7 linked regions of the Homo sapiens genome follow. The protein of the gene in region 1 purifies or fractionates together with the protein of each later gene. This does not show direct contact. Each region holds a gene or a part of one and is shown in the gene's direction. Other genes may lie near its edges. The genes, in order: PCDHB16, SLC39A11, POM121, TAOK2, PTPRF, ST7 and PTPRD.

Region 1 (3,989 bases):
GTAAAAATTTAAAATATAATCTAAGTCTAGCCAATATGCTATATGGTCAGGCATTAACTGATAGCATTGTTTTTCTAACTAAGGAAGTGAAATTTATGTTATTCCTACTCCTACTCCATGAACTAAACTCTCATGTGAAAATATAAGTTTTAGTTTATAGTTTGTTTATACTACTCTGCACAAATATACCCATGTTCTTATCAAAGCTCTAAGTATGCTGGGACAGATACTACAAATGAACTTTATGATGAGCGAATTAACCTGATTTATAGTCCTGTACTTTCTCTACGTGCCATATCCATTATTAAAGAAATGAGTCTAAGTAGGAAGTAGAGTTAACCTATAGTTTCATTTCTTGAATTTCTTATTCTCTTTCTTCAGTCTTTTTCAGTTAACCTACACACACACACACACACACACACACACACACACACACACACATATGTTTATAAGTGGGATGGGAGAACGGGTACGGTGATAATTAAAAGAGGTAAGGTTTCTCTTGAGATGAAAATGTTCTAAAATTGTGATGGCGGATGCACACCTCTGAATATATTAAAAGCCATTGAAATGAAAAAAGGGTGGGGGGAATCCAAAAGTGTAGCAGACCCAACCTTGAGATTTGCTTGTTTGGGAATGAATTTTCCAATAACTTGAAAGTTGTAAAAACTCACACTTCTCAGGGTTAGGTGTCAGAAAGAAAAGGAAGTAATTTATTCTTTAATAAAGCAATTGTTAAATACTCTTTAGAACTACCACTGATTGCAATTTTGCAGTGTCTACTCATAGTGTCTATATAGGTACCATGAAAAAGATGTACTTGTGAAACTGTTCTCATGTTACTTCAGAAAAATTTTGCTTCTAAGTGTGTATTCTATGTCTGGTTAAATGTTCATTGAATTTTATTTAATCATTAATCTCAACAGCATTAAACAGTCAATAACATAAATGACAGTCTTCTCTTTGTACTCCTCCCTGTACAACATCACAGAGCTCCATCTGTATACACGAAAGTCACATGAAAATAGAACTCAGTGTTTTGTATTACATAGTCTATTCAGTACATTTAGAAGTATTTTGCCTCCAATATTCAACCACAGTAAAAGACTCAGTGAGAACGCGTGGTGGCGCTGCAGGTTAAGATGACGGAAAATACAACTGCCTACGCAGCTCCAGGATCCAGCAAACCGTTTCCCAAAGCCTGGAAGCAGAAGAATAGCTGAGCCAGAGCGAACGTGAGTGTGAAACCTCTTTAAGACACCGTTGGGCTGCTTGGTTCTGACATTCTGGACTGCAAAACAGTTCTACTAGGATCCTGGGGATACATGAAGCTTCTGTGAACCAACTTTTCAAGAAAAAGCAATGGAGATTGGATGGATGCACAATCGGAGACAAAGGCAAGTCCTTGTTTTCTTTGTTTTGCTGAGCTTGTCTGGGGCGGGCGCCGAGTTGGGGTCCTATTCCGTAGTGGAAGAAACGGAGAGAGGCTCTTTTGTGGCAAATCTAGGAAAAGACCTGGGGTTGGGGTTGACAGAGATGTCCACCCGCAAGGCCAGGATCATTTCCCAGGGGAACAAACAGCATTTGCAGCTCAAGGCTCAAACTGGGGATTTGCTCATAAATGAGAAGCTAGATCGAGAGGAGCTATGCGGTCCCACTGAGCCTTGCATACTACATTTCCAAGTGTTAATGGAAAACCCTTTAGAAATATTTCAGGCTGAACTGAGGGTGATAGATATAAATGACCATTCTCCCATGTTCACTGAAAAGGAAATGATTCTAAAAATACCGGAAAACAGTCCTCTAGGAACTGAGTTCCCTCTGAATCATGCTTTGGACTTGGACGTAGGAAGCAATAATGTTCAAAACTATAAAATCAGCCCAAGCTCTCATTTCCGGGTTCTAATCCATGAATTCAGAGATGGCAGGAAATACCCTGAGCTAGTGTTGGATAAAGAGCTGGATCGGGAGGAGGAGCCTCAACTAAGATTAACCCTGACAGCGCTGGATGGTGGCTCTCCACCGCGATCTGGAACTGCTCAGGTCCGTATTGAAGTGGTGGACATCAATGATAACGCTCCTGAGTTTGAGCAGCCCATCTACAAAGTGCAGATTCCAGAGAACAGTCCTCTTGGCTCCCTGGTTGCCACCGTCTCCGCCAGGGATTTAGACGGCGGAGCCAATGGAAAAATATCATACACACTCTTTCAGCCTTCGGAGGATATTAGTAAAACTTTGGAGGTAAATCCTATGACAGGGGAAGTTCGACTGAGAAAGCAAGTAGATTTCGAAATGGTTACGTCTTATGAAGTGCGCATCAAAGCCACAGATGGGGGAGGTCTTTCAGGAAAGTGCACTCTTCTCCTGCAGGTGGTGGACGTGAATGACAATCCCCCACAGGTGACCATGTCTGCACTCACCAGCCCCATCCCAGAGAACTCGCCTGAGATAGTAGTTGCTGTTTTCAGCGTTTCAGATCCTGACTCCGGAAACAATGGGAAGACGATTTCCTCCATCCAGGAAGACCTTCCCTTTCTTCTAAAACCTTCAGTCAAGAACTTTTACACCTTGGTAACGGAGAGAGCACTCGACAGAGAAGCAAGAGCTGAATATAATATCACCCTCACCGTCACAGATATGGGGACTCCAAGGCTGAAAACGGAGCACAACATAACAGTGCAGATATCAGATGTCAATGATAACGCCCCCACTTTCACCCAAACCTCCTACACCCTGTTCGTCCGCGAGAACAACAGCCCCGCCCTGCACATCGGCAGCGTCAGCGCCACAGACAGAGACTCGGGCACCAACGCCCAGGTCACCTACTCGCTGCTGCCGCCCCAAGACCCGCACCTGCCCCTCGCCTCCCTGGTCTCCATCAACGCGGACAACGGCCACCTGTTCGCCCTCAGGTCGCTGGACTACGAGGCCCTGCAGGCTTTCGAGTTCCGCGTGGGCGCCACAGACCGCGGCTCCCCCGCGCTGAGCAGAGAGGCGCTGGTGCGCGTGCTGGTGCTGGACGCCAACGACAACTCGCCCTTCGTGCTGTACCCGCTGCAGAACGGCTCCGCGCCCTGCACTGAGCTGGTGCCCCGGGCGGCCGAGCCGGGCTACCTGGTGACCAAGGTGGTGGCGGTGGACGGCGACTCGGGCCAGAATGCCTGGCTGTCGTACCAGCTGCTCAAGGCCACGGAGCCCGGGCTGTTCGGTGTGTGGGCGCACAATGGCGAGGTGCGCACCGCCAGGCTGCTGAGCGAGCGCGACGCAGCCAAGCAGAGGCTGGTGGTGCTGGTCAAGGACAATGGCGAGCCTCCGCGCTCGGCCACCGCCACGCTGCACGTGCTCCTGGTGGACGGCTTCTCCCAGCCCTTCCTGCCGCTCCCAGAGGCGGCCCCCGGCCAGACCCAGGCCAACTCGCTCACTGTCTACCTGGTGGTGGCGTTGGCCTCGGTGTCGTCGCTCTTCCTCTTTTCGGTGCTCCTGTTCGTGGCGGTGCGGCTGTGCAGGAGGAGCAGGGCGGCCTCGGTGGGCCGCTGCTCGATGCCTGAGGGCCCCTTTCCAGGGCGTCTGGTGGACGTAAGCGGCACCGGGACCCTGTCCCAGAGCTACCAATACGAGGTGTGTCTGACAGGAGGCTCAGAAACAAGTGAGTTCAAGTTCCTGAAGCCGATTATCCCCAACTTCTCTCCTTAGGGCACTAGGAAAGAAATAGATTAAAATTCCACCCTTCACAATAGCTTTGGATTTAATTATTGATAGGAACCCATTTGATAAATTCCTTAACTTCTTATGATTGTCTTGTTGATTAAATTGTTCATGCTCACCACCACCAATAAGGTATTTTTCTCTGATTGTTAGTTCAAATTATATTGTTAATTCCAGTTTCCCTTTTCCTCATATTTACCCCGAAGAGGTGTTGCATATAGAATCCCAATTAACAAAATATACTTTATCTTCAAAGTTGATGTCATTTAAAATTTTTCCGTCTT
Region 2 (3,500 bases), on another chromosome or scaffold:
ACATATTTTTCAGGGGTTACAAAGCCCTATTTTACAGGGGTGCCAAATGTGAAAAAGCACCGTCCCCGTCCTCAAGCAACTAAGGCTGTAAAAGATGGAGGCAAAGCCACACTGAGAGAGGACCAAAGCTGCATGCTAGGACAGGGCTGGGGAAGGCCAGAAAAGCCTTGGTCGTGAGGTTGGCATTATGTGGGCTGCAGAGGGTGCTCCGGGTTCTGATGGCTGGAAATGTGCAAGGAAGGTATTCCAGGAGGGAACTGCATGAACAGGGACTTGGAGGCAGGATTGTCTGGGGCTTGTGGAAGGTGCCATAAATAATTCAGTTGAGCTGGAGTTGGGTGCTCGTGCAGGCATGATGGAGAACGGGATTGGAGAGTCGGGGGTTGGTGGGTATCAAAAGTTGGTTGGTGGAGTTTACCCTTTGGCTGGGCAGGTGCGCTGTTGCAGATGTGATGGGGATTAAGATTGGAAGCGTGTTGACATCACCTGAGCTAGTCACCTGTCTTTGGTGGAGGCTGAGTGCGGATGGTGGGCAAGAGACGGTAGAAGAGGCAGATTATGTGGGGGAGGCTGCATCAGACCCTCCTATGCCCCCTTCTTCTGGAATAAACCACATTCTTTGTGCTTCTCTTTGAAACCACTTTTCAATGTTGCAGCCTTTTTTGTGGATTCCCCTGGCATCTCCCTGTGCCTTCTTTCAGATTAAGACGATTTCCAGTTCCTGGGGGACCTGGATAGAGAAGCCTGACCTGTGTGCTGGGTGGCTGAGGGACACAGATGGCGTGGTGGAAGGGTGCATACGGTCAACCTGGAGGGAGGCCAGCTCCCACACAGGGTGTTAGGACCCGTCAGAATATGCGCCTGTCACTGAAACGGACCACCGGTGGCTGACCCTCTCGCTCCTCTTGCACAGCTGTATCCAGCATGCTCCAAGGCCACAGCTCTGTGTTCCAGGCCTTGCTGGGGACCTTCTTCACCTGGGGGATGACAGCAGCTGGGGCAGCTCTCGTGTTCGTATTCTCTAGTGGACAGGTGAGTTGCCTTGCTTTGGTTCTGGATGTTGGTGGGGAGCCCGTTGGTAAAGGGGCACTGTCCCACTCCATGGAGCAGGTTTGTAGACTTTTCAGTGCCCCTGGCCACACCCCCAGGCATTGTGTACTGGGGTTTGTTCGCTGTCTTCTTATTTTCTCACCTTCTCCCTGCCAGGCCGGGAGAACAGATGTCTGCTTGCTGTAGACACCTTCATGCACCATCATCTCCCCTCTTGACCCTTGACAGCCTGACTTGAAGGGAATAGGAAGTGAGAAGCCCAGTTATTGAGGCTTCGTTAGCCCGCTGCCTAATTTCTACCTGCCATGTAATTTCTTTTCTTTTTTCTTTTTTCTTTTTTTTTTTGAGACAGAATCTTGCTCTGTTGCCCAGCCTGGCGTGCAGTGGCAGGATCTCAGCTCTCTGCAACCTCCACCTCCCGGGTTCAAGTGATTCTCCTGCCTCAGCCTCCAGAGTAGCTGGGATTACAGGCATGTGCCACCACGCCTGGCTAATTTTTGTATTTTTAGTAGAGGTGGGATTTCACCACTGGTCTCAAACTCCTGACCTCAGATGATCCACCCACCTCGGCCTCCCACAGTGCTGGGATTGCAGGTGTGAGCCACCGTGCCTGGCCTGCCATGTAATTTCTTTCAGGCCTGGAGCAAGTGGTACTATGCGTGACCGAAGAACATTAGATTTCAGGTGTAACTGTCCTCCCCTGTGGACTTGAGTTGGGTGGGATGGTTGGAAAGACCTTGGGAGAAGAAGGGGCATCTGTTCCCTTTTTTTTCAACCCATCTCCAGGTTGTTTCCTTTCCCCTTGGGATGAATATAGACAGACCCATGTCCCTGGCCCCCTGCAAACTCTTACTTCTTTCTCCTACATCTTCCTTGTATCCTACTCCCAGTGCCCTCACTCACTGTCATGGCCCCACAGCCTATCTCTCCCTCCTCCCACAACCCCATCCTTACACCCCTTCTACACGCTCTACCTATAGTCCCACATACCCACACTTGCACACATACCCATACCCATATGCCCTCCCCACACCTCTGCACAACCCACACTCACCTCATATACCTGAAATTGCATTCTTTTCTCCAACCCAGATCACCCTCAGTCCGCAGCCCTGGAGCCATCCATGGGTATCTTGATGAATGCACAATCCCTGCATCGATCACCTCGGTAGCCTGAGACATTGTAGAAACGGCAAATGAATAAGTGACTTAAGATCTAGTTCAACATGTTGTGAGGGAGATCTGGAAATGAAAACACCTTTAGGAAGTTCACAAGTCAGGCACTCTTGTGTTAGAGACCAGTACAGCAGGCCTTGATTTCAACAATAAAATCCCGACCTCCCTTGCTGCGCTGCACTGCCCCCGGGAGCTGATGGGTTGGAGACTGGAAATCAGAAAACACACAATCCAGAAACATGGTTTATCTGGAACCTAGGTATATAAGATGCCAAGATAAGTCAAATTCACAGAGACACATTGTAGAATGGTGATTGCCAGGGGCCACAGAGGAGGGCAGAAATAAGTTATTCTTGAATGAGTACAGAGTTTCAGGGTTTTTTGTTTTTGTTTGTTTTTTTTTTCTTTAGACAGAGTCTTGCTCTGTCACCCAGGCTGGAGTGCAGTGGCGTGATCTTGGTTCACTGCAACCTCTGCTTCCCAGGTTCAAAAGGTTCTTCTGCCTCAGCCTCCCGAGTAGCTGGGATTACATGCATACACCACCACGCTCAGCTAATTTTTTTTGTAGTTTTAGTAGAGACGGGGTTTCGCTGGTAACCCCATCCGGCCAGGCTGTTTTATTTATTTATTTTTTATTTTTTTTGAGCTAGAGTCTTGCCCTGTCACCCAGGCTGGGGTTCAGTGGCATGATCTCAGCTCACTGCAACCTCCACCTCCTGGGTTCAAGTGATCGTCCCACCTCAGCCTCCCAAGTAGCTGAGACTACGGGTGTGCACCACCATGCCCAGCTAATTTTTGTATTTGTAGTGGAGATGGGGTTTCACTATGTTGCTCAGGCAGGTTTTGAGCTCCTGACCTCAAGTGATCTGCCTGCCTCGGCCTCCCAGACTGCTGGGATTACAGGTGTGCACCATCATGCCCAGCTGAGTTTTAATTTTGTAAGGTGAAAAGTTCTGTAGACCACATGGCTTCTTTCACTTCAAAGAATGTCCATAGAGCTCATCCACGTTATAACATGTGCCAGAATTTCTTTTGTTTTTAAGGCTGAAGACTATTCCATTGTATGTACATACCACATTTTGTTTATCCATTCATCTATGGATAGATAGCAAAAAAAAAAAAATCTGTATTGAAATAGAAGATGCTTATGGAAAAATGCACATTTTATTAGGCTGGTGCATTTTATTAGGTTTGCACCAACCTAATATAAGTATGCAGCTTGATAACTTTCCACAAGTGCTCATGAAACTAGAGCCCAGATCAAGAAACAAAAC
Region 3 (3,500 bases), on another chromosome or scaffold:
GAAGAGAAATGGCCCCAGTTCATCACCCTTCTCTAGCCCAGCCTCCTCCCGCTCCCAGACACCGGAGAGGCCAGCAAAGAAAATAAGGTACTTGGCATTCTCCTGCAGTTTTCATTTGCTGCGTGGACAGGCGGGGGTGAGGAAAGGTGGGAAACGAACCTGGCTCTTAGGCTTTGTGCTGCTGTGACTTGGAGAATCAAAGAAACTTAAGTCCCTGAGAGGTACAATGCAGTACCCACCCGAAGTGCTGTCATCCCTACAGTCTTGGATACTGACTCCAGTGGCCTCTGGCTGTCGCCTCCCACTCCAGCATGAGGGATCGGGTGCAAGCACAGAGGCCATGCAGAGTGGAGAGCAGAGAGAGTCAAGTCAGCGGGCAGTCGCCTTCAGGTTCTTGACTCGAGCTGACCCCCTAGGTGCTTGCAGTTGGCTGGAATGCCACTCCCTCAGGGATCACATCTGTGTCTAGAACTCCCAGGGACTTGATAGGTTGTAAGTAAGGTTTGAAGATTATTGTTTTGTGCTTGTTTTAAGACAAAAGCTGTCTTCATGGCCTCTGTGAACAGCCTCCCTTCATTCTGTTGGAATTTCCTGTTGACTTTTTTTATCCTGGCATACTGAGATCTTAAATGATGGTTGTTTTAGACATTGGCCACTTGGTAGTTAGGAGGGTGTGAGAAATTATTTAATACTTCAGCCAAGAAGCCTTTCTAGACTAAATTGTTCCTTTTTTCCTGACAGAGAAGAGGAGCTGTGTCATCATTCCAGTTCTTCAACTCCATTGGCAGCAGACAGGGAGTCCCAGGGAGAAAAGGGTAGGTTGCTGAGCCAGGAGGAGGGGCTGCTGTTGGTGGTGGAGGTGTTTGTGGAGGATGTAGAGATTAATACCTATTGAAAAAAGGTCTTGAGCATTGCTATGTCTAAGGCATGTTAGATACAAAGAGAGAGATTTCCTCTCCTTCAGAAGTTTATAGTCTGATGAGGGAGAAAGGCTACAGACAGGGACTAACGATTGGATAGAGGTAAGCTCAGTTTGAGTCACCTGTGGGTGATCCCAGTAATTACTGCACAGTAAGCGGTTTGTGTGCGCGCCTTAATCTTGCAAACACCATCCAAGCAACCAAACCATAGAAGATTGAATCTTTTCAGAGATACCCATTGAAAACTCAATGTGAAATGCGAAGTGGGTAGACACAACCATCCATTTCTGGAAGAGGGAAGGAAGCAAACGAGTCTTGATTTCTTTCTTTAGCTGCAGATACAACCCCAAGGAAGAAACAAAACTCGAATTCTCAGTCTACACCTGGCAGCTCTGGGCAGCGTAAGCGGAAAGTTCAGCTGCTGCCTTCTCGGCGAGGGGAACAGCTGACCTTGGTATGGTCTTGTCCATCTACTCCTGCCCTCCCCGGCTTAGCTCTCCTAAGTATTAGGAACGCTAAGGACAAGTTTCTTCTGATTTTTTTTCTAATTTATTTTTGTTTTTGTTTTTTGAGACAACATCCCTCTGTCACCCAGGCTGGAGTGCAGTGGCTCGATTTTGGCTAACCGTAACCTCTGCCTCCTGAGTTCAAGCAATTCTCCTGCCTCAGCCTCCCAAGTAGCTGGGATTACAGGTGCTTGCTACCACGCCTGGTTGATTTTTTGTGTTTTTAGTAGAGATGGGGTTTCACCATGTTGGCCAGGCCGGCCTCAAACTCCTGACCTCAAGTGATCCAGCTGGCTTGGCCTCCCAAAGTGCTGAGATTACCGGTGTGAGCCACCATGCCTAGCCTTCCCGTTTTTTCTGATTGGCCTGACTTCTTCTTTTTCACTTTGGTAGCCTCCACCTCCCCAGCTTGGCTATTCGATCACTGCCGAGGACCTAGACTTAGAGAAGAAGGCTTCATTACAGTGGTTCAACCAGGCCTTGGAGGACAAGAGCGGTAAGGAGCACAGATTGTTGCACACTGGAGAGGTTTCAGGTGTCTGTTTTCTTTGGTTTTATTTTGGTGTTTGAAAAAATGGGTTTCTCTGGGAAAATCCCAAGTAGGGTTCCATGTTTTCTTGTGGTCTTTCTCACCTGAGATATCCGTGTTGGTCTTCACGGGAACTGGACAGCAGGGACCACTGCAATTGAGGGCAGGCATTCCTCCATGAGCTGTGCTGAGAGCCTGCTCTCCGACAGGCATGTGGAAAGAAGTCCCAGACAAGCCAGGACTGCTTCACCTTTCTTTCTTTCTTAGATGCTGCCTCGAACTCTGTCACTGAGACCCCACCTATCACTCAGCCTTCATTTACCTTTACCCTGCCTGCTGCTGCACCTGCCTCCCCACCCACCTCCCTCCTGGCCCCAAGCACCAACCCACTGTTAGAGAGCTTGAAGAAGATGCAGACTCCCCCGAGCCTGCCACCCTGCCCAGGTGAGCTGGAGTGGGGCCGTGGATCCAGCCTTCTGAGCAGCATCCCCGGCTTGAGTTGGAATAAGGGCGTCGTGCCTGTCAGTCGCTGGAGATTGCTCTGCAGGCCGAACGCACCCTGGCTCAGCACACCGGAGCGGGCCCACGTTTAACAGCGCCAGAGCCCGCATCAGGAAGTGTTAGAGAAGGGGTGCTGCGACGCTCAGGATCTGAAGCCTGGCTCGTAGCTGCCCTGAGCCTCGCCTTCCTCATCTGTCAGATGAGAATGATCTTCCCTGTGCGGCACCTCTGAAGTGTGAATGTGGTGGCGTGGTCAGGATATCCTTGCCTGTCAGAACCACTGGTCCAGAACAGCACTGCTTCCTTTCCCTCCAGCACTTCGAGGGCTGCTGGTGTTCCCGGCCCAGGCCTTCACGGCACTGCGCGCGCACACCTCTTTATCAGACGGTAACCTGGGGTTCGTACGCACCCTCCCTGCTCAAGGGCAGAGACTTCCCCATTCATAGTTGTGTGCTCTTAGCGCCTGGCAGGTGAGCTTAGTAGGCAAATAAAGTATATCTAGATTCATACGTGAACTTCAGAGTTCAGACAATTGGACTGTCTTAGTCTCTACACATTAGGCCCCCATTTAGGCCCCATTTTATCCCCTTCTGTCTGATGATCTGTGAGGTAGAAATAACACTTCCTTGATTTACTGTACAGGCCTGTAGTGTAGACTTAGCTGAGTTTATTGACTGACTCTTGGATCCCAGGCTCTGTGGTAGGCGTGGGGAGGACACTGAAATACTGAATACCATCATCTTTGAAGTGTTTATTCCAATTTCACATTTTCTATTCTTCTTCCAGAATCTGCTGGAGCAGCAACCACTGAGGCCCTCTCACCTCCAAAGACACCCAGCCTCCTACCCCCGCTGGGTTTATCACAGTCAGGGCCGCCAGGGCTGCTCCCCAGCCCCTCCTTTGACTCCAAACCCCCGACCACTTTGCTGGGGCTGATCCCTGCTCCATCCATGGTACCAGCCACTGACACCAAGGCACCTCCAACCCTTCAGGCAGAGACGGCTACCAAACCCCAAGCCACATCTGCCCCGTCCCCCGCCCCCA
Region 4 (3,500 bases), on another chromosome or scaffold:
AAGGGCTGCTCTGAAATCATAGTGATGGAGGACCAGCTTTGGACAAGGCACTTAACCTTGCTGAGCCTGTTTCTTTATCTGTAAGATAGGGGAAATCATAGTACTTGCTTCATAAGGTTGTAGTGAGGACTGAATAGAGATAATGCACGTAAGGTACTCAGTAAATGTTATTTGTACCCTGCAAATGTCCTGTACCTGTGTGTGATGCTTATGCAGTTGGACAGGACAAGTAAGGTGGCCCAGAGCACAGAGAGGCCCTCATAGCCAGATGCCATTTATATCCCTATTCTTCCCATTCTAGATCTCCCCCTGACTTTTTTGAGAGTGACTTTGCGGGCTCCTCTGGGCCAGTACCCACTTCTAACAATGGACGGATTTCCACCGCCTCCGGCCTGGCCATTTCCTGTTCTCTTCCAGGGTGTGAGAGGTTGAGGGAGGAGGGGGCCTCAGCGCCAAGGGGAACAGAAAGGTGCCTGGAAACAGTTGGGGTATAGGACTTATGGGACAGGACACTTGGGGCTCTGGAGTGCTGGCTGGGAAGCAGAATGTTTTATCCTTGAGGGGAGATACAGGGGCTATAGGGAAATGAGAACTTGTTGAGCACTGAAGGGGGTGGTGAGGATACTTAGCTTCCCAGAATCTTCCTAGCAGTTTTAGGGACTCCAGGGACCCAGCCCGCGTGATCTGGTTGCCAGGGCAACTTCATTTTTTGGAGCTTTGATGTTGTTCCTAATCTCCCCCTCCCCTTCCTCAGCAGTGCCTCCTCCTCATCAGGGAATGAGGGGAGGAGATGGCAGAAACTTGATGGGTCCCTTCCTCTCCCTGAAGGCTCAATCCTTGATCTCTAAGGGTCCCATTTCCATTCCTCAGGCCAGGCCCCACTCTCAGGGCCCCCAGGGGCCACCATGCCAGCTGGGGGCCGGGCCGGGAGCCTGAAGGACCCAGATGTGGCTGAGCTCTTCTTCAAGGATGACCCAGAAAAGCTCTTCTCTGACCTCCGGGAAATTGGCCATGGCAGCTTTGGAGCCGTATACTTTGTGAGTTGGGTCTTGGGAGGGTGTAATAGGGATGGGGACTCTTCCTATCCCTGTGGACTTCCCAACAGCCCTTGCACACTACTCCATCACACTGGTCTTTCCTGCCTTCTCTTGCTGGGCCAGCAAGTCTTCCCATGCCCGGCTCTCAATGGGGCCTTCAACACCTTCTGGTCTGGTCCTCTAGGCCCGGGATGTCCGGAATAGTGAGGTGGTGGCCATCAAGAAGATGTCCTACAGTGGGAAGCAGTCCAATGAGGTGGGCCAGGTGCAATACAGCCAGGTTGGGGACAGGGGACTCCTGTCTCAAGATGCAAGCTGGGTAACCTCTGCCTACCCTGACCCCCTAGAAATGGCAAGACATCATCAAGGAGGTGCGGTTCTTACAGAAGCTCCGGCATCCCAACACCATTCAGTACCGGGGCTGTTACCTGAGGGAGCACACGGCTTGGGTGAGCTGGTGCCAGATTCTGGCCTGATCTTTACTCCTATTCATGCCCGTCCTTATCGTAGTCCAGTCTCTTAGGTGGTCCCTGTTCGTGGTGCTGTTGTGGGATCTTGGGAAGGAGGAAGTCTCTTTTGACCGCTTTAGTCCTCAGACATACCCACTGAGCAAAAGCCTGGCTCAGTGACACAGGCTGTTAGCAGGTGGGACAGGTCACTGTGGGCTGGAGAAGGTGGAGATTGAATGGGAGTTTGAAGGGATTCAGATGGGCAGTGGTGAATGTCTTGGGCCCAGACTCTAGAAACTCTCCCACCACCCCCTCATTGTCTCCAGTTGCGCTTCCTCCCTGTCATCACCCCGGGGACATAGCTTGAGTACAGGACAGTCAAGGAAGCTCTGTTTTGAGTCCCTGCCCAGGAGACTCTGATCTCTGACCCTTGTCTCTTCCTTAGCTGGTAATGGAGTATTGCCTGGGCTCAGCTTCTGACCTTCTAGAAGGTAAGTGACTGATAGGCCAATAAGTGGAGAAGGGAGAAGAGCAGGGGAGCCATAGGGAAGGGTTAAGGGGAGTTTATTCCAGTCCCACCCTTGCGCTCCCTCGGGTTGATGTTCTTCCTCACTCTCCAGTGCACAAGAAACCCCTTCAGGAGGTAGAGATCGCAGCTGTGACCCACGGGGCGCTTCAGGGCCTGGCATATCTGCACTCCCACAACATGATCCATAGGTACAAGCAGCACCGGCAGTGCCTGGGAGGGGAGTGCTATCTGCACCACCTGTCACTTAGCTGGGCTGCCCCTGCCTAGCTTTCTTGAGACACATGTCTCATCCCTGTACTTTGCCTCTGGCAGGGATGTGAAGGCTGGAAACATCCTGCTGTCAGAGCCAGGGTTAGTGAAGCTAGGGGACTTTGGTTCTGCGTCCATCATGGCACCTGCCAACTCCTTCGTGGGCACCCCATACTGGTGAGTGAGTGAGTGGTGGTGAGTGGAGAGACCTCCCAGGGATGTTGGGAGTAGGAGTGACAGGGTCTCGGCGGGTGATTTGCCTCTCTCTCCTGACCATTCTCCTAGGATGGCACCCGAGGTGATCCTGGCCATGGATGAGGGGCAGTACGATGGCAAAGTGGACGTCTGGTCCTTGGGGATAACCTGCATCGAGCTGGGTAAGAACATCCTCCCTGTTCCCTCATCATCTTTTCCATTCTTTCCTGTTAGTTCCCAGACTCCGGACTACCCCCTTCTCCTAGGGATGGGATCCCAGGCCTCCAAGTTCCTGTCCGTTGTGACTCTACCCTGGAGCCCAATACAGGCAGCTGGCAAATTCTGCCAGCTCTTAGGCCTAGAGATTTTGTAGCATTCATCTCTTCCTGTCCACTACCCTGGTTCTGAATCTTTTCTTAGTGCCCACCATGTGCTGTGCCATGGACTGTGATTCTGGAGGGATAGCAGTGAATGAAAATCCTGCCCTCATGGAACTTACATTTGATTTAGGGAAACCAGGCAGGCATGTTTTCTTTCAATGTGATGAACGCTGTGTGGAGAAGTTACAGGAGCGGTTCAAATGTAAAACAGGGGACTTGACCTAGTTTAGGGGCTGAAGAAGGCCTCCTTGTAGGAGAATATTGAAGCCAACCTGCAAGATAAATAATAGCTGTTTGCAGAATGTAGGGAAGAGCTTTCCAGGCAGAGAGAACAGCATGTGAGAGGCCTAGAGGTAAGTGCAGGCCTGGGGAACTGGGACTAGCTTCAGTTATTTGGAACCTAGCATGTAATGCAGAGAATATTGAAGGATAAGGCCAGAGAGTTAGGTCCAAGTGAGTTCCTAAGGCCTTGAAGCCATGCCAAGGTTCTCATCTCTGTCAGCCAGCACTATTGAAACAATTCTTTAATGAGGTAGGTAACCTTTATAAGGCTTCCAACACAATGCCAGGCACAAAACAGTTGCCTAAGAGTTGCTGTTAGTTTCTCTTATCAACAGCCTCCTGCAGTGATCTCTCCAGTCTCTTCTCCCTTCCAGTCTGT
Region 5 (3,142 bases), on another chromosome or scaffold:
TGGGCCTGAAGGCCTGGCAGACCCACTGCATGAGGCAAGCAGGACTCCTGACCCAACTGTGTTTCTGAGCAGTGCTGGCGTGGGCCGCACCGGGGTGTTCATCACTCTGAGCATCGTCCTGGAGCGCATGCGCTACGAGGGCGTGGTCGACATGTTTCAGACCGTGAAGACCCTGCGTACACAGCGTCCTGCCATGGTGCAGACAGAGGTAACGCAGACCAGGCTGCAGGGCCAGGGCCTTGGCAGCAGCGCTGCTGGGAACCCTAGGCTTTAGCAACAGTTTGATGCCCACAGGCATGTGCATTCATTCATGCTGCCAACCTTTCACGTGGCCTGCGATAGGCATGGTGGTGTGTGCTTATGGTCCTACCTACTTGGGAGGTTGATGTGGGAGAATCACTTGAGGTCAGAAGTTCGAGGCTGCAGTGAGCTATGATTATACCACGGCACTCCAGCCTGGGTGGCAGAGCAAGACCCTGTTGCTGAAAACAAAACAAAACAAAACAAAAATGCTGCAACATTGCCTGTGCTGCCTGGGGGCTCAGGGGATTGATGAGTAAGATGTGTTCTTTCATTCGGCAGCTCTCTGCTGAGCCCCAGTGGTGTGCCTGGCTCTGGGCAAGGTTGCACAGAGCAATCCTTATGGGGTGCCCAGTCAGGAGCAGAGAAACATGATTGGGATGGCAGATGGAAGGCAGGTAGATGTGGGGGCCTGAGAGAATGACAGGAGAGAGATGAGCCTTCAGAGGCTCTTTCAGGCTCCCCCGCACACTGCCTGATGTAGCTGCCAGGGTCCAGCACCTGCTCTTGGCCAGCAGAGGCTAACTCCATGGCTGCAGTGTGAGTGTCAGCTGTGTAGTGGGGGTGTCCACTGGCGCGACCCACACTGACCAGCCCCCTATCCTGGCAGGACCAGTATCAGCTGTGCTACCGTGCGGCCCTGGAGTACCTCGGCAGCTTTGACCACTATGCAACGTAACTACCGCTCCCCTCTCCTCCGCCACCCCCGCCGTGGGGCTCCGGAGGGGACCCAGCTCCTCTGAGCCATACCGACCATCGTCCAGCCCTCCTACGCAGATGCTGTCACTGGCAGAGCACAGCCCACGGGGATCACAGCGTTTCAGGAACGTTGCCACACCAATCAGAGAGCCTAGAACATCCCTGGGCAAGTGGATGGCCCAGCAGGCAGGCACTGTGGCCCTTCTGTCCACCAGACCCACCTGGAGCCCGCTTCAAGCTCTCTGTTGCGCTCCCGCATTTCTCATGCTTCTTCTCATGGGGTGGGGTTGGGGCAAAGCCTCCTTTTTAATACATTAAGTGGGGTAGACTGAGGGATTTTAGCCTCTTCCCTCTGATTTTTCCTTTCGCGAATCCGTATCTGCAGAATGGGCCACTGTAGGGGTTGGGGTTTATTTTGTTTTGTTTTTTTTTTTCTTGAGTTCACTTTGGATCCTTATTTTGTATGACTTCTGCTGAAGGACAGAACATTGCCTTCCTCGTGCAGAGCTGGGGCTGCCAGCCTGAGCGGAGGCTCGGCCGTGGGCCGGGAGGCAGTGCTGATCCGGCTGCTCCTCCAGCCCTTCAGACGAGATCCTGTTTCAGCTAAATGCAGGGAAACTCAATGTTTTTTTAAGTTTTGTTTTCCCTTTAAAGCCTTTTTTTAGGCCACATTGACAGTGGTGGGCGGGGAGAAGATAGGGAACACTCATCCCTGGTCGTCTATCCCAGTGTGTGTTTAACATTCACAGCCCAGAACCACAGATGTGTCTGGGAGAGCCTGGCAAGGCATTCCTCATCACCATCGTGTTTGCAAAGGTTAAAACAAAAACAAAAAACCACAAAAATAAAAAACAAAAAAAACAAAAAACCCAAGAAAAAAAAAAAGAGTCAGCCCTTGGCTTCTGCTTCAAACCCTCAAGAGGGGAAGCAACTCCGTGTGCCTGGGGTTCCCGAGGGAGCTGCTGGCTGACCTGGGCCCACAGAGCCTGGCTTTGGTCCCCAGCATTGCAGTATGGTGTGGTGTTTGTAGGCTGTGGGGTCTGGCTGTGTGGCCAAGGTGAATAGCACAGGTTAGGGTGTGTGCCACACCCCATGCACCTCAGGGCCAAGCGGGGGCGTGGCTGGCCTTTCAGGTCCAGGCCAGTGGGCCTGGTAGCACATGTCTGTCCTCAGAGCAGGGGCCAGATGATTTTCCTCCCTGGTTTGCAGCTGTTTTCAAAGCCCCCGATAATCGCTCTTTTCCACTCCAAGATGCCCTCATAAACCAATGTGGCAAGACTACTGGACTTCTATCAATGGTACTCTAATCAGTCCTTATTATCCCAGCTTGCTGAGGGGCAGGGAGAGCGCCTCTTCCTCTGGGCAGCGCTATCTAGATAGGTAAGTGGGGGCGGGGAAGGGTGCATAGCTGTTTTAGCTGAGGGACGTGGTGCCGACGTCCCCAAACCTAGCTAGGCTAAGTCAAGATCAACATTCCAGGGTTGGTAATGTTGGATGATGAAACATTCATTTTTACCTTGTGGATGCTAGTGCTGTAGAGTTCACTGTTGTACACAGTCTGTTTTCTATTTGTTAAGAAAAACTACAGCATCATTGCATAATTCTTGATGGTAATAAATTTGAATAATCAGATTTCTTACAAACCAGGACTCTGTCTCAGCTGTTTCTGGAACCAAAGAGTCTGGGCCAAATCAGTAGCTAGGATGGGTTCTGGAGATTCCCTGCTCCTGAGGAGACGGGGAGGGTACCCTAAGTATTTGTGCCAGTGTAGGCTCCTGGCATGGCTACCCACTTTCAGAAAGGAGTGGTTATAAACCCTGAAAACCAGGCCACCAAGAGCCAGCCAGGCCAGAGCCACCAGTGCATGTGAAGAGCACCCTAGGCCGGGGAGCATACCCTTTGCCTCTCTTTCCCTTTAAGATTCTGTGGGTTGCACTATCGGGGCATTGGGACTGCCCCTCTCCCACTACCTTGGAGGAGAGGGATGGCCCTGTGGCAGTAGAGACTGAATGTATGGAAATTGGTTAGTGAGATCTCCTGTAATTATTGCAATGTGGATAATGGACACAAAAAACAGTGTGTCCATCTGGCCCCTGGACACACAGCTGCATCACCCACTGAGCTGTGCAGCTGCTCCACTGGT
Region 6 (3,500 bases), on another chromosome or scaffold:
TTCGGAAAATGACCAATTATGTTGTATCTAAGTGAATGAAAAGGTTGGTAGCAATGTCATCTCAAAATGCATAAAATATATTCTCCAAGAACAAATGACATTAATGTGCAAAAGACACGCAAAATCTCTGTTAGAGTGCCTTTTCTTGATTTCCTTAGCCTGTAGTTTTGTGAGCACAAAAAAGGTTTGCTATCAGCAGTTGAAATACTGTGGAATAGCACATTAATACACTAATATGACTTTGGAGATTTTGGCCAACCCTCTTAGCAATGAAATATGTTCTTGTAATTTAAGCTGACACTCCTAATTTAGCTCTTGTCCTCTACTGAGTCTACCTAATTATATGTATGGATTGACTTGGTGTTTTCTCTTTTTCTTAAATAGTAATGCAGAAAGCCTGGAGAGAGAGAAACCCCCAAGCTAGGATTTCTGCAGCTCATGAAGCCTTGGAGATAAATGAGTAAGTGGGGGAAAATCTTGCTGTTAAAAAGGAAATCTCATCCTTTGCTGAATATATTCAGTTGCCATTGATAGGATACTTAAATTAAACTGCATTTGAACTGGAGGATTATTTGGGGAGTTATTACTCTATTTAAAAAAGTTTTTTTTTTAAATGAAGGACAGCCACCATGTGGAGGTGGTTTTAGTCATTTTATGAATTCAATGGCTTTGCTGTGATCCTAAATTAATTTCTTGAAGGGCTATCCCTAGGATATTGTGAGGATATAAAATAAATACAATTCTTTACATATCTAAAACATTCTGACAGGGAAAATTTTCCAGATGTAGAATGCTCATCTGCACTAGAACATTTTCTAGTAGAACTTCTGCTAGTGGGGAAAACATGATAACAACATAAGGTTTAAAAAAAAAATTTTAGAAAATACTTCAAGATTAAGACAAAGATAAGAGGAAATGCTGTCTTGAGTGTTGTTAAACATTCTGTGGGTTACCAAGGAAGGCTGGGAAATCTCTTCTGGAGATCTCAGAAAATGAGAAAGATTCTTAAAGTTGGAGTCATAAAAACTCAGGGTTGGCAGAGACCTTAAAGGTCACTTAGCTGAACCACCCATCTGGTGCTTGAATCACCTCAACACTATCCTTGCCAAGTGGTCATTGTTAAACTATTTTATGATTTTTCTGAAGAAGGTTACAGAATCTTCTTCAGAGATCTTAGGGAAAAAAAAAAAAGATTGTCGTGAGAGTTGAAAATCCTGCCATTGTAACCAGTTGATCTACGGTTTCTGATTCTGTCATGCAACATATTTATTTTCCAGTTTCTTGTCATCTACAAATTCGATATGCCTGCCTTCTGTGTGTCATCCATATTTCTGAGAAAAATATGAAGGCCAGGAATAGAGCCCTGTGACATGACATAGAAACTACCCTCCAGGTTCATGTCTTCATGAATCACCATCTTTTGTATTGTTCACTCAATTACTAAGCCACCCAGTTACACTGTGACTCAGCTCATATTTCTCCATTTGGATCTTAAGAATGCCAATCGTAGCTGCGGATCTTAAATTTATAGTAAATCTATTACAGTAAATTAAGCTAGCACAATCTGATTTATTTATTCTTAGTGAATATAAGCTGGCTTCTAGTCGTCACTACTTTCTTTTTAAAGTGCTTGGAGACCATTCCTTTAATAATCCATTAGAATATCTTTCCAAATCACTGTGTTCTGTAGTTTGGGAAGTCTGCCTTCTTCCCCTTTTTGAAAATTTATGCTACATTTATCATCTCATCTTCTAGCACCTCTCCATTCTTTGTGATTCCTCAACTATCCACAGAGAGCAATTCCATGGCCTGCCTACAAGGTCTTTCGGTTTCCTGGGATTTGCCCATCCAGTCCAGTAATTCATTTAGAATGGATCAATTATTTGCTATCTTACATCTTTTTACCCATTTTAGAGTTTAATTTCTTCTCCCTTTTTCAGTCTGACAGTCATTCTCCTTGATAGAGAAGCCAGGAACAAAATAGGAGGGAGAGAGTTTTGCTTTTTCTTTATTATCTACTGCTTTTAACAATAAACCTTCCTTGTTTTGATGTTATTATGTTGTTTGTCTTTTTTTTTTACTTATTTGCCTTTGTGACATGGGGACGGTGATAGGGCCTTAAATATAATTTTAAAATAGGGAATAAATGGTTGTCTTTAGTATTTTATTTTGTTTTATTATTATTATTATTATTGTTATTTTTGCAAGCTTCAGCTAATTTGGAATTGTAGCTCTCCTGACATTATTCTTATAAGCTCATTCCACTCTCTTATAGACCATCATTACATGCCCTCTTTCCATCTTTTAAAATATGTCCTTTAAAAATCTGACCTGGGAGAAATCTCTGTGAAGCCGTGTTGGTTACTTAAGTGCCACCCCTCTTTTCTTCCTGAGAGGATCATTTGTGATTGCAGTTACAGTTGAACATTTGGAAGCTGCTCAACCCTCTTAAACCATTTTTCCTTCTGAATCTCATGCCATTGAATCATGCCTCTTTTCTTTGAATTTTTTGAAGTCCACCTTCCCCTCTTTGATTACCCTGAACTCCGAAATGACATAGTGACTCTCTCTGAATGTTCCTATCAATTTTCATTTTACCAACTATTTTTTTCTTCTTGGTCAGAATTAGGTCCAGAGTTGAAGTTCCCCTAATTGCTTCCTCTACCATCTGGGAGATAAAATTGTTACCAAAGTAAGTCAAGAACCTGTTGGGTGCCCTACTTCTAACCAAATGAGACTTCTAGTGGATATCTGGATGGTTGACACCCCCATCACCACACTTTCTTGCTTCTGTATGTGTATTGTGTTGTGACAAGGATGCATCATCTATATCTTCCATCGAGCTGAGCAGTCTGTTCTGTACTCCCCAACCATTAGCACTTCTATTGCTCTCTCCTTTTTCCTTCACTCACAAGCTCTTAGCATGTTTCTATCCCAAACTCATGCGTTTCCACATAGATGTATGTTTCTTGGCCAGTAGTGCTACTCTGCCTCTCCTCCTAAGAATACCATTTGAAATATAAATAAGCAAAGCAAGCAAGCTAGCCCCAACCATTCTTGGGTTCCCAGCCCAACAACTACAATCTTATAGCTAATTCCTCTGATACTGTATCTACCACTCAGTATTACAATCTCAATTTTCACTTCATTACCCTTGCCTCATATTTATATGTTGGCATCTGAAGCCTTAAGCATTTCTTCTGATGCCTGTCCCAGTTATTTTCTCCAGTGAATCACTTGTATAGTTTCAGCATCATTATGGTTCTTTCCAAGTCATGGATGCTGCCATCTGTAGAAATTGGTTTTATAGCTGTTTTTCTGGGCATTTTTCTCCCTACCTCACCACATTGTTTAAAGCCCCATTGATGGTTCCTGCCTGAAATTAGAGAGACTGGCTAAAGACCTTACAGACCCTTCCTAAGGCTAAGATTAACTAGTAGCCCCAGCCCTTACATTAGCTGTGAAGTTCAGCCTCCTTTTCCTAGCTGGCTATTGCAGTT
Region 7 (3,500 bases), on another chromosome or scaffold:
AAAAGACTGAGAGGGCTTTAAGTTACAATAGGATGGGTTCCCTTAAGAAAATACCTAGCTTGATTTTGAAATTTTTGTTAGAGGTAATTTTGTTTCCCTGGGGATGTTTTTCTCTCCTTTCTTTTTTTATGGAGTCTGGGGTGGGGAAATATGAAGAAAGTCATTTCTTCTCTAAATTCTTCGAAAGTCCCTTGATCCTTTTTCCACAATAGTGACCTCCCTTGCTGCATGAGGCATGTGTACCTTCTTCCATGGAAAATTTCAAAATGATGCTAGCTATTGTTTCTAATACCATGTTAGTCTGTGAGATATTGCTAACTTTTCCAGCTGAGATAGGAAGGATGAACTAGAGCGAATAAAGATGTTCAAGTAGCAGTTGAAAGCCTTGATATGGCCTTTTTACTCTCTCTGTGTTTCCCTTGTTTTTCTCCTTTCCTCATTTCATTGTGTTCTGCATCAAACCCCCTACATCCCTCAGAGCTGCGAGAAGGTTGGTGTGTTTTTTACTTTTTACCCACCTTACAAAACTATTAATTAAACCAATAACAAAGAATACAAATGAAATGAATGTAGCTGCATTGTGTTCTTCTTTTGGTTAATGGTATGTTTTAGCAGAGAATGCCCTGGCCATGGCTTCTGGTGCTTGCTGGTGGTATCTAACTGTGGTGCATGGTGGGAGAGAATGTACCTGGGTGCATGGTAACTGGTAACACTTAACTCTGTAAGGTCCAGTGAACTTGGTCAGTGTTCCTGCTTTCCTTCCTGCTCCACTGTCCCCATCTCCCACCCTGCCTTTAATTTCTGTCTTATAAGGATGCCTGCTGCCCATAGAATGACTTTTTCTAGTTTCTCCCCTAATCCCAAGCATGAAGACTAAACTCTCCTCCATTTTTCTTGATATGTTCTTTGATACCTCAGAGTCTACACTGGCTCCTGCTTGCTTTGTGTAACCTCTGTGAATTGGCTGCAGGAGGCATGCTTAGCTTTCTCTTCTTCTCCTATGACTGTCATTCACCCATGAGGCCATTGCAGTGAGCCATCTCAAATAAGCGGAGGTTTATCTCGACCTTAAGAGCAGCCAAAAAGTTTTCAGACAGAATTACTTATCTTCTTCTTGGGGTTATGAGGTTACTTATCAGTTTATTTATAATTTTTAAAAAATCTTTATTAAATGTATTTAAGGTGTGCTCCCTAAAGATTACCCTCTAGATCTCAAATTCTTATGGTATGACATTTTGCCAGTAAAAGCCCCAGATGAAACCAATTTATCTTTCACTTTCTCCTTGTATCACATCCAAAACACATTTACTTAAACACACATAAACCTGCAGATTATCTGAAGCAGGAACACTGAACTGAAATTGCTTGGTAATTTTTCTGTGTTATGTTGCTTTAATATGATCTCTTCTCTTAATGTCATGTCCTGCTGTATGTTTTAGATCCAGTGTCCCTCAATTTGAATGTGGGCATAAAAAGCCTTTTAAAAGATTTTGTTGTCATTTATGTTGTTTTACCTTTGATATGAATTGAATGGAATCCTGTATGTGAAACACCCAGCTCCCTTTCTGAATTTGCAATCCTTACCTTTAACAACTTGAGCTTAATCTTCTGTCTTTCAACCCTGTCATCCCCTAAGTCCCTGTGTTTCAATCGTTATACTTTACCTCCCCCTTTCACGTTTATTTCTATTGCCCCCTTATTTCTTCTGCGGTCATTGCTGTCTTGGATTCCAGCCATTCTTTCAATATCCTTAGCACGGGCCTTGAGATTCCATCTTGTGCATGCCTTGCATGACCCAATCCAGTATCTCTACTGGTGTTAGCCTGTTTCTTCTTCTGTGACTGTAAATCAATATGTATATACATTTCTGTGTTTGTTCCAGTGTTAGTGTGAGGTCTTGAGGCTGCATCCACTATGAATCTGAAAACATAAAGTGCACTTTCAGTGTACTCTAGGTGATGTTTTCCAGGGCTGGGATGTGACAGTGTGGTCCCACACCTACATTCACATCAACTGGAAGTGCACAGCACTGAAGTTGGTTTTGATACTCAACTTAAACATGCTGGTGACCTTCCAGCCCCCTTTTCTGCATATACATGCCTGCATAGAATCATTGTTATATGCCTGCATGTATATGTTTTTGTGTTTATCTTATGCATGATGTTTGTGTATTGTTAGTTTGTAGATAGTTTTTTGTGGGGCCCTTGTAGGTCTGAATCAACTTTTGTATTAGTGTGTCTAAGATATCAATGACTAAACTAAATAAATAATTCTGTGTATACACACACCATACTTGTATGGTCTGTATTATCCACAGTTTTTCTTTATGTTTTGTTTTTGGACAATCCACAATGTTTCAATTGTTGAATCGTGTCTGTACGGTGCATGTCATGTGTTTAATAATCCACTTTTTCTTGCCTTGTATATGTTATCATTTCCCTTGTGTTTTGTTCCAGTTCGCCGTGTCCCACCAAGATTCTCTATCCCACCCACTAATCATGAAATCATGCCAGGCGGAAGCGTTAATATCACCTGTGTGGCCGTGGGGTCACCAATGCCTTATGTAAAGTGGATGTTGGGGGCAGAAGATCTGACACCTGAAGATGATATGCCAATAGGAAGAAATGTGCTAGAACTGAATGATGTAAGACAGTCAGCAAATTACACCTGTGTTGCTATGTCAACACTGGGTGTCATTGAAGCAATAGCACAGATCACTGTCAAAGGTATGCTCAATGGATTATGCTTTGAGGATCTGGGTACACTCAAGCCAAGTGACTAATGCCTCTAGAAAGCCCATCCTTGAAAATCTAAAATAATTCATTATTCAGCATTTTAAATGTGTGTATAACCTAATCATATCTGTGGTATTATATAACATGCATAAGCCTAGATAGGCGGATTTTTTCTTGGAAGTATCTGGCAGCCTATGTAGAGATAATCATCAGAATATTAAAAGACAGTCCATGGAGGCCCAGGCACTAACCAGACAGAACTAGGAATTTTACACATGGTCGACCATTATGGTGGGACTGATGTGTACAGTCTACATACTAGACCAGAACCTTGATAAGAACCCCAAGAAAAGTCAATATGAGCATTAATAAATGCTTAAAATTTCTAAATACAAAGGAAAAAGAAGAAAAAAAAAGTTGAAATCAACATAGTCTAGTAATAGATGATTTAACTTTTTGGTGAGCCCTACTATTAAAAATCAAAAGGCAAGTAAGAGTATATTCTGTTGTAGTTTTATCTTTCACCTTGCATAGATGAGTGCTCAAGGAATATTCTTTCCTTTAAAAAACAGACTAAATATAACCAAAGTACTATATTACATGAATATTTTTGAACTAAAGAGAAAGAGTACAAGCATGTAAGGGTACCGTTTTTTTTTCCCCTAGTGTTTATAGAATTCTAGAAAGTGTTTGCAAATTGAGTCAGACATAGGGCAACTTAAGTTTTCTGCAGATGGCTAGAACTATTGCAAAATGAACACAAAT

Evidence for each region.
Region 2: the proteins of PCDHB16 (region 1) and SLC39A11 purify together in Homo sapiens (affinity purification with mass spectrometry; one large-scale study listed by BioGRID and IntAct). This does not show direct contact.
Region 3: the proteins of PCDHB16 (region 1) and POM121 purify together in Homo sapiens (affinity purification with mass spectrometry; 2 studies listed by BioGRID and IntAct, with this or other methods). This does not show direct contact.
Region 4: the proteins of PCDHB16 (region 1) and TAOK2 purify together in Homo sapiens (affinity purification with mass spectrometry; 2 studies listed by BioGRID and IntAct, with this or other methods). This does not show direct contact.
Region 5: the proteins of PCDHB16 (region 1) and PTPRF purify together in Homo sapiens (affinity purification with mass spectrometry; 2 studies listed by BioGRID and IntAct, with this or other methods). This does not show direct contact.
Region 6: the proteins of PCDHB16 (region 1) and ST7 purify together in Homo sapiens (affinity purification with mass spectrometry; 2 studies listed by BioGRID and IntAct, with this or other methods). This does not show direct contact.
Region 7: the proteins of PCDHB16 (region 1) and PTPRD purify together in Homo sapiens (affinity purification with mass spectrometry; 2 studies listed by BioGRID and IntAct, with this or other methods). This does not show direct contact.

Annotation. Positions count from the first base shown.
Region 1 is NC_000005.10:141,181,198-141,185,186, forward strand, and holds the start of PCDHB16 (protocadherin beta-16 precursor), read left to right. Parts: upstream 1-1,189; 5' UTR 1,190-1,362; coding exon 1,363-3,693; 3' UTR 3,694-3,989. UniProt on the Homo sapiens protein: Potential calcium-dependent cell-adhesion protein. May be involved in the establishment and maintenance of specific neuronal connections in the brain.
Region 2 is NC_000017.11:73,086,189-73,089,688, reverse strand, and holds part of SLC39A11 (zinc transporter ZIP11), read left to right. Parts: intron 1-913; 5' UTR 914-924; coding exon 925-1,032; intron 1,033-3,500. UniProt on the Homo sapiens protein: Zinc importer that regulates cytosolic zinc concentrations either via zinc influx from the extracellular compartment or efflux from intracellular organelles such as Golgi apparatus. May transport copper ions as well.
Region 3 is NC_000007.14:72,938,595-72,942,094, forward strand, and holds part of POM121 (nuclear envelope pore membrane protein POM 121), read left to right. Parts: coding exon 1-87; intron 88-741; coding exon 742-815; intron 816-1,252; coding exon 1,253-1,374; intron 1,375-1,819; coding exon 1,820-1,922; intron 1,923-2,222; coding exon 2,223-2,399; coding exon of another isoform or gene 2,400-2,417; intron 2,418-3,242; coding exon 3,243-3,500. UniProt on the Homo sapiens protein: Essential component of the nuclear pore complex (NPC). The repeat-containing domain may be involved in anchoring components of the pore complex to the pore membrane. When overexpressed in cells induces the formation of cytoplasmic annulate lamellae (AL).
Region 4 is NC_000016.10:29,976,868-29,980,367, forward strand, and holds part of TAOK2 (serine/threonine-protein kinase TAO2), read left to right. Parts: intron 1-870; 5' UTR 871-905; coding exon 906-1,037; intron 1,038-1,221; coding exon 1,222-1,293; intron 1,294-1,384; coding exon 1,385-1,486; intron 1,487-1,931; coding exon 1,932-1,977; intron 1,978-2,106; coding exon 2,107-2,203; intron 2,204-2,327; coding exon 2,328-2,441; intron 2,442-2,549; coding exon 2,550-2,641; intron 2,642-3,500. UniProt on the Homo sapiens protein: Serine/threonine-protein kinase involved in different processes such as membrane blebbing and apoptotic bodies formation DNA damage response and MAPK14/p38 MAPK stress-activated MAPK cascade.
Region 5 is NC_000001.11:43,621,025-43,624,166, forward strand, and holds the end of PTPRF (receptor-type tyrosine-protein phosphatase F isoform 1 precursor), read left to right. Parts: intron 1-72; coding exon 73-208; intron 209-910; coding exon 911-979; 3' UTR 980-2,642; downstream 2,643-3,142. UniProt on the Homo sapiens protein: Possible cell adhesion receptor. It possesses an intrinsic protein tyrosine phosphatase activity (PTPase) and dephosphorylates EPHA2 regulating its activity.
Region 6 is NC_000007.14:117,131,501-117,135,000, forward strand, and holds part of ST7 (suppressor of tumorigenicity 7 protein), read left to right. Parts: intron 1-384; coding exon 385-460; intron 461-2,623; coding exon 2,624-2,692; intron 2,693-3,500. UniProt on the Homo sapiens protein: May act as a tumor suppressor.
Region 7 is NC_000009.12:8,520,503-8,524,002, reverse strand, and holds part of PTPRD (receptor-type tyrosine-protein phosphatase delta isoform 1 precursor), read left to right. Parts: intron 1-478; coding exon 479-490; intron 491-2,456; coding exon 2,457-2,726; intron 2,727-3,500.